Homo sapiens: one gene and its partner. The protein of the gene in region 1 interacts with the protein of each later gene in a pairwise test. Each region holds a gene or a part of one and is shown on either strand. Other genes may lie near its edges. The genes, in order: NIBAN3 and BAG3.

Region 1 (3,196 bases):
TACATTTCTTTTTCTTTTTATTTATTTATTTATTTATTTTTTGAGATGGAGTGTCGCTCTGTCACCAGGCTGGAGTGCAGTGGCAGCATCTTGGCTCACTGTAACCTCCACCTTGCGGGTTCAAGCAATTCTCCTGCCTCAGCCTCCCCAGTAGCTGGGATTACAGGCGTCCACCACCACGCCCGGCTACTTTTGTATTTTTAGTAGACATGGGGTTTCACCATGTCGGCCAGGCTGATTTTGAACTCCTGACCTCAGGTGATCCACCTGCCTCGGCCTCCCAAAGTGCTGGGATTACAAGCGTGAGCCACTGCACCCGGCCTACATTTCTTTTTTTTTATTTTTATTTTTTGAGATGGAGTTTCGCTCTTGTCACCCGGGCTGGAGTGCAATGGCGCGATCTCGGCTAACTGCAACCTCTGCCTCTCGGGTTCAAGCGATTCTCATGCCTCAGCCTCCCGAGTAGCTGGGATTACAGGCGCCCACCACCATGCCCAGCTAATTTTTGTATTTTTAGTAAAGATGAGGTTTCACCATGTTGGCCAAGCTGGTCTTGAACTCCTGATCCTTGGTCTCCCAGAGTGCTGGGATTACAGGCATGAGCCATTGCGCCCAGCCAACATCTCTATTAACTCTGATTTTTTAAGCACTTATTACATGCCAGGCATCTGACACATCTGATTTTTGACGTCCGTATATTTTCCATTATACAGATGAGGAAACTGAGGCTGAGCGGGAAGGAGGGGCTTGTCCCAGGCAGCCAGACTCTGGTGCCCAGATCCAGCCACTCTGCCCACCGCCTTCTCCAGGAACATTCCGGAGCTGAATCTTCACCCACATCTATCTTGTTTCTATTGGATAAATGTCTACAAGTGGAATTTCTGGGCCAAAACGGATGTGCCATCTTTAGGCTTTTGTAACCCCTGCAACTTCAGAAAACTGTACCATTTTATACTCCAAGCAGCAGCATTTATTTGTGTATTTTCCCCAAGGCTTTCTTTATTTTAATTTTTTTTTTTTTTTTGAGACTGAGTCTTGCTCTGTCACCCGGGCTGGAGTGCAGTGGCAGGATCTCGGCTCACTGCAACCTCCGCCTCCCGGGTTCAAGCGATTCTCCTGCCTCAGCCTCCCGAGTAGCTGAGATTTCAGGCACCCGCCACCATGCCTGGTTAATTTTTGTGTTTTTAGTAGAGATGGGGTTTCACCATGTTGGCCAGGCTGGTCTCGAACTCCTGTCCTTAAGTGATCTGCCCCCCTCAGCCTCCCAAAGTGCTGGGATTACAGGTGTGAGCCACCACACGTGGCCTAATTTTTTTTTTTTAAATAATAGAGACAAGGTCTCGCTATGCTGCCCAGGCTGATCTCAAACTCCTGGACTCAAGCAATCCTCCTGCCTTGGCCTCCCAAAGTGCTAGGATTATAGGAGTGATCCACTATGTCCAGCCTCCAAATCCTTTCTAAACACTAGGACTTTTCATGAAAAGAAAAAAGCTATGCCAGTTAGACACACACAGAAATCTCATGATTTTATTTTGAATTTCTTTGACTAAATTGAACTTACAAATAAGTTTATTATGGCCAGGCGTGGCAGTGCACACCTGTAATCCCAGCACTTTGGGAGGCTGAGGCGGGCAGATCACTTGAGCTCAGGAGTTCAAGACCAGCCTGGCGAACATAGTGAGACCTCATCTCTACAAAAAATACAAAATTAGCGGCCGGGAGTGGTGGCTCACGCCTGTCATCCCAGCACTTTGGGAGGCTGAGACAGGTGGATTGCTTGAGCCAAGGAGTTTTGAGGCCAGCTTGGGCAATGTGGTGAAACCTGTCTCTACTAAAAAATAAAATAAATAAATAAATAAATAAATAAATAAATAAATAAATAAAATTTAAAAGAAGCTGGGCTGAGATGGGAGATTTACCTGAGCCTGGGAACTCAAGGCTGCAGTGAGTGGTGATTGCACCACTGCACTCCAGCCTGGGTGATGGGAGTGAGACCCTGTCTCAAAAAACAAAATCCAAATATGTTGATTAGCCATTTACATGTTTGTAGTTTTTTTTTTTTTAATTTCAGTGAATTGCCTGTTCATAGCTTTTTTCTACTTTTCAGGAGTGTTTGCATTTTTCTTATTGATATCTAATAACTCTTTATATCTGAAGGATATGAACGCTTTGTGATACAGGTTACAGATTTTGGGGTTTTTTTCTCCGCTTGCTGTGAGCCTTTTGGGTTTGTTTCCTAGCTCCAAATCTTAACTTGGTGTCAAGTTTCCTGGCTGGGAGACAAGCTTTTACCGACTTCCTCTGCTTGCCAGCAAAGTCATCTGCTAACTGGATATTGGCAGCTTCTCTGCTGTCTTGCAGCTGCTTCCGGAGTGGGTTCCACAGGGATTCCCGTGTGTTCTTGGTTCAGCTTGCAGAGGGACTTTCACACTCCCTGGAGACCGTTTCCTCCCATTCTGTCTGGAGTTTTCGGCCTACCCCAAGACAATGAGATATTCCTGACCTTTCCACCTATTTCCCTCCAACCCCACCTTCCGAAATACATTTGCTCAATACATTTGCACTTCATAGGCTTCTTTAGCTGTCTTCCTTTTACCCCGGACGGGATGTAGATGTTAATTCTGGAACAATTGCAGCTACAAGAATTTGTCATCCTGCCCCTTTTGAGAAAAACATTGTTTGCCCTTGGGTCTAAATCCTTCCAGATGGGATGGGATGTATCTTGTCACCTCCTTTTTCTTACTTAATATGAAAAGACCTTTCCTCATCAAGTCCACAGAGTGTAAATTTGTTTTTACCTTTTTTTTTTTTTTTTTGAGACGGTGTCTCACTCTGTCACCCAGGCTGGAATGCAGTGGTGCGATTTTGGCTCACTGCAACCTCCACCTCCTGGGTTCAAGTGATTCTCCTGCCTCGGCCTCCGTAGTAGCTGGGATTACAGGCGAAGCGCCACCATGACCGGCTAATTTTTTGTGTTTTTAGAAGAGATGGGGGCTTCACCATATTGACCAAGCTGGTCTCGAACTCCTGACCTCAAGTGATCCGCCTGCCTCAGCCTCCCAAAATGCTGGGATTACAGGCGTGAGCCACTGCACCTGGCCTGTATCATTCTTAAAAATTAAGTTTTAGCGGGGCATGATGGCTCACTGGTAATCCCAGCAGTTTGGGAGGCTGAAGGGGGAGGATTACTTGAGAC
Region 2 (3,262 bases), on another chromosome or scaffold:
GCACTCCAGCCTGGGCAACAGAGTGAGACCCTGTCCCCCACAAAAATCTATATATCTATATGGCTGTAGTTTATAGTCACAGGAAAACCTGTGCAGCCAGAGGTTAGCACAGAGGCGCTGTGTCATTGCTGAATGTTAGGCTACAGCACAGCTATCCTGAAGCAAAATTGTTCTGGAGTTAACCATTTAGAGCATCTTGGCTAATCCTAAAAAAATACATTGGTCTGGGCAGAAACTACTAGGCTGTCACGGTTTTAAAAAAAGAAGATCGTATCTTTTCTAAAACAGGAGACAAGAAGATCACACCGTGAGCAGACTGTCTGCACAGTGTAAGGAAGAAGGACCAGAGGCAGCGACTCCAAGGCTGCAACACCTGAGAGCTGGAGTCACTCAGGACTCTGCTCTGAGTCAGCCTAGTTCAGCAGTCAGCATGAGTTTTTGCTATTTTTTTCCTTCTTTCCTTCCTTCCTTCCCTCCTTCCCTCCCCCTCCCTTCCCCCCTTCCCCTTCCCCCCTTCCCTGCTTCCTTCCCCCTTCCCCCTTCCCTCCTTCCTTCCTGCCCCCTTCCCCCTTGCCCCCTTCTCCCCTTCCTTCCTTCCTTCCTTCCCCCCTTCCTTCCTTCCTTCCTCCCTCCCTCCCTTCCTTCTTTGAGACAGGATCTCGCTCTGTCACTCAGGCTGGAGTGCAATGACATAATCGTGGCTCACTACAGCCTTGAATTCCTGGGCTCAAGCGATTCTTCCGCCTCAGCCTTCTGAGTAGCTGGGACTACGAGTGCAAGCTCCCACACCTGGCTAATTTTTAAAGATTTTTTGTAGGGTTGGGGTCTTACTATATTGCCCAGGTTAGCTATTTTCATTTTTGAAAATTTTATTGGGTTTCTTTTCATTGCCATTAAGAATACCATCTACAGAGAAATTCAGTGAGAGGTAATAGACAAATAGCCTGGGGTGATCAATGGAAGCCTGACTAATGATTGGGTTACATACATGATTAATACCATGTTTTTATTTTGTAACAGCCATTGATTGACTTTGAAAATCTTTTATACTATTAAACTTTTTTTAAAAAGCCATTTCTCAGTTTTCTTTCTAATCTGTACTAGCTACAAACAATTTCTGTGACTTTCAGTCAGTTATTAAAAATATATTTTTGTGTCCTTTTTTCAGCAGCCCATGACCCATCGAGAAACTGCACCTGTTTCCCAGCCTGAAAACAAACCAGAAAGTAAGCCAGGCCCAGTTGGACCAGAACTCCCTCCTGGACACATCCCAATTCAAGTGATCCGCAAAGAGGTGGATTCTAAACCTGTTTCCCAGAAGCCCCCACCTCCCTCTGAGAAGGTAGAGGTGAAAGTTCCCCCTGCTCCAGTTCCTTGTCCTCCTCCCAGCCCTGGCCCTTCTGCTGTCCCCTCTTCCCCCAAGAGTGTGGCTACAGAAGAGAGGGCAGCCCCCAGCACTGCCCCTGCAGAAGCTACACCTCCAAAACCAGGAGAAGCCGAGGCTCCCCCAAAACATCCAGGAGTGCTGAAAGTGGAAGCCATCCTGGAGAAGGTACAGGGGCTGGAGCAGGCTGTAGACAACTTTGAAGGCAAGAAGACTGACAAAAAGTACCTGATGATCGAAGAGTATTTGACCAAAGAGCTGCTGGCCCTGGATTCAGTGGACCCCGAGGGACGAGCCGATGTGCGTCAGGCCAGGAGAGACGGTGTCAGGAAGGTTCAGACCATCTTGGAAAAACTTGAACAGAAAGCCATTGATGTCCCAGGTCAAGTCCAGGTCTATGAACTCCAGCCCAGCAACCTTGAAGCAGATCAGCCACTGCAGGCAATCATGGAGATGGGTGCCGTGGCAGCAGACAAGGGCAAGAAAAATGCTGGAAATGCAGAAGATCCCCACACAGAAACCCAGCAGCCAGAAGCCACAGCAGCAGCGACTTCAAACCCCAGCAGCATGACAGACACCCCTGGTAACCCAGCAGCACCGTAGCCTCTGCCCTGTAAAAATCAGACTCGGAACCGATGTGTGCTTTAGGGAATTTTAAGTTGCATGCATTTCAGAGACTTTAAGTCAGTTGGTTTTTATTAGCTGCTTGGTATGCAGTAACTTGGGTGGAGGCAAAACACTAATAAAAGGGCTAAAAAGGAAAATGATGCTTTTCTTCTATATTCTTACTCTGTACAAATAAAGAAGTTGCTTGTTGTTTGAGAAGTTTAACCCCGTTGCTTGTTGTTCTGCAGCCCTGTCTACTTGGGCACCCCCACCACCTGTTAGCTGTGGTTGTGCACTGTCTTTTGTAGCTCTGGACTGGAGGGGTAGATGGGGAGTCAATTACCCATCACATAAATATGAAACATTTATCAGAAATGTTGCCATTTTAATGAGATGATTTTCTTCATCTCATAATTAAAATACCTGACTTTAGAGAGAGTAAAATGTGCCAGGAGCCATAGGAATATCTGTATGTTGGATGACTTTAATGCTACATTTTAAAAAAAGAAAATAAAGTAATAATATAACTCAAAATGGTTTTTGTGGTTTCTAAATCTTTGAAAGCAGTGGCATCATGGAGATTGTCTGTCCCTGGTTTCAGTCAGAATAAATGACAGGTGCATTTAACAAGCCTGCTTTGGGTTTTGTGACGTCTCCAATAGCCCGGCTCAAGAGAGAATTGTCTTGGTCACCTTTCAGTCTCAGATTGCAACAGGAACCTGGGAAGACTCAGGGCTGTGAACTCCGGTAATGGGAACATGCCTGCTGCATCCGTTCGGACCGACCCAGCCAACAGCCAAGGTGCCAGTTAGGTAGCATGTCTGCCCACCTGTCCTCAGGCCTCACCAAGAAGCTGAGATTGTCCAAAAGTGCCCAGAGGGCCTGGCGCAATGGCTCACACCTGTTATCCCAGCACTTTGGGAGGCCAAGGCAGGAGGATCCCTTGAGGCCAGGAGTTTGAGACCAGCCTGGGCAACATAGCAAGACCCTGTCTCTACAAAAAACAAATCAGCCAGGTGGTGGCATGCGTCTTCAGTCCCAAGCTACCAGGGATGCTGAGACGTGAAGATAGTTTAAGTCCAAGAGATGAGGCTGCCGTGAGCTGTGATCCCGCCACTGCACTCCAACCTGGGCAACAGAGTTGAGACCCTGTCTCTAAAAATTAAAAAAGGAAGCGCACAGGGAAGCCAGCTCCCACTATTGCCCAAGGCTGGCCAAAGTGTTCCTTGGAGTCTAGGTCACTGGGGGTTGGAAATGTGCTCTGAGAATCTT

The links.
Region 2: the proteins of NIBAN3 (region 1) and BAG3 interact in binary tests that used the Homo sapiens proteins (3 or more experiments, as listed by UniProt).

What each region holds. Positions count from the first base shown.
Region 1 is NC_000019.10:17,551,073-17,554,268, forward strand, and holds the end of NIBAN3 (protein Niban 3), read left to right. Parts: intron 1-713; coding exon 714-826; coding exon of another isoform or gene 827-920; 3' UTR 921-2,240; downstream 2,241-3,196.
Region 2 is NC_000010.11:119,675,296-119,678,557, forward strand, and holds the end of BAG3 (BAG family molecular chaperone regulator 3), read left to right. Parts: intron 1-1,168; coding exon 1,169-1,987; 3' UTR 1,988-2,524; downstream 2,525-3,262. UniProt on the Homo sapiens protein: Co-chaperone and adapter protein that connects different classes of molecular chaperones including heat shock proteins 70 (HSP70s), e.g. HSPA1A/HSP70 or HSPA8/HSC70, and small heat shock proteins (sHSPs), e.g. HSPB8.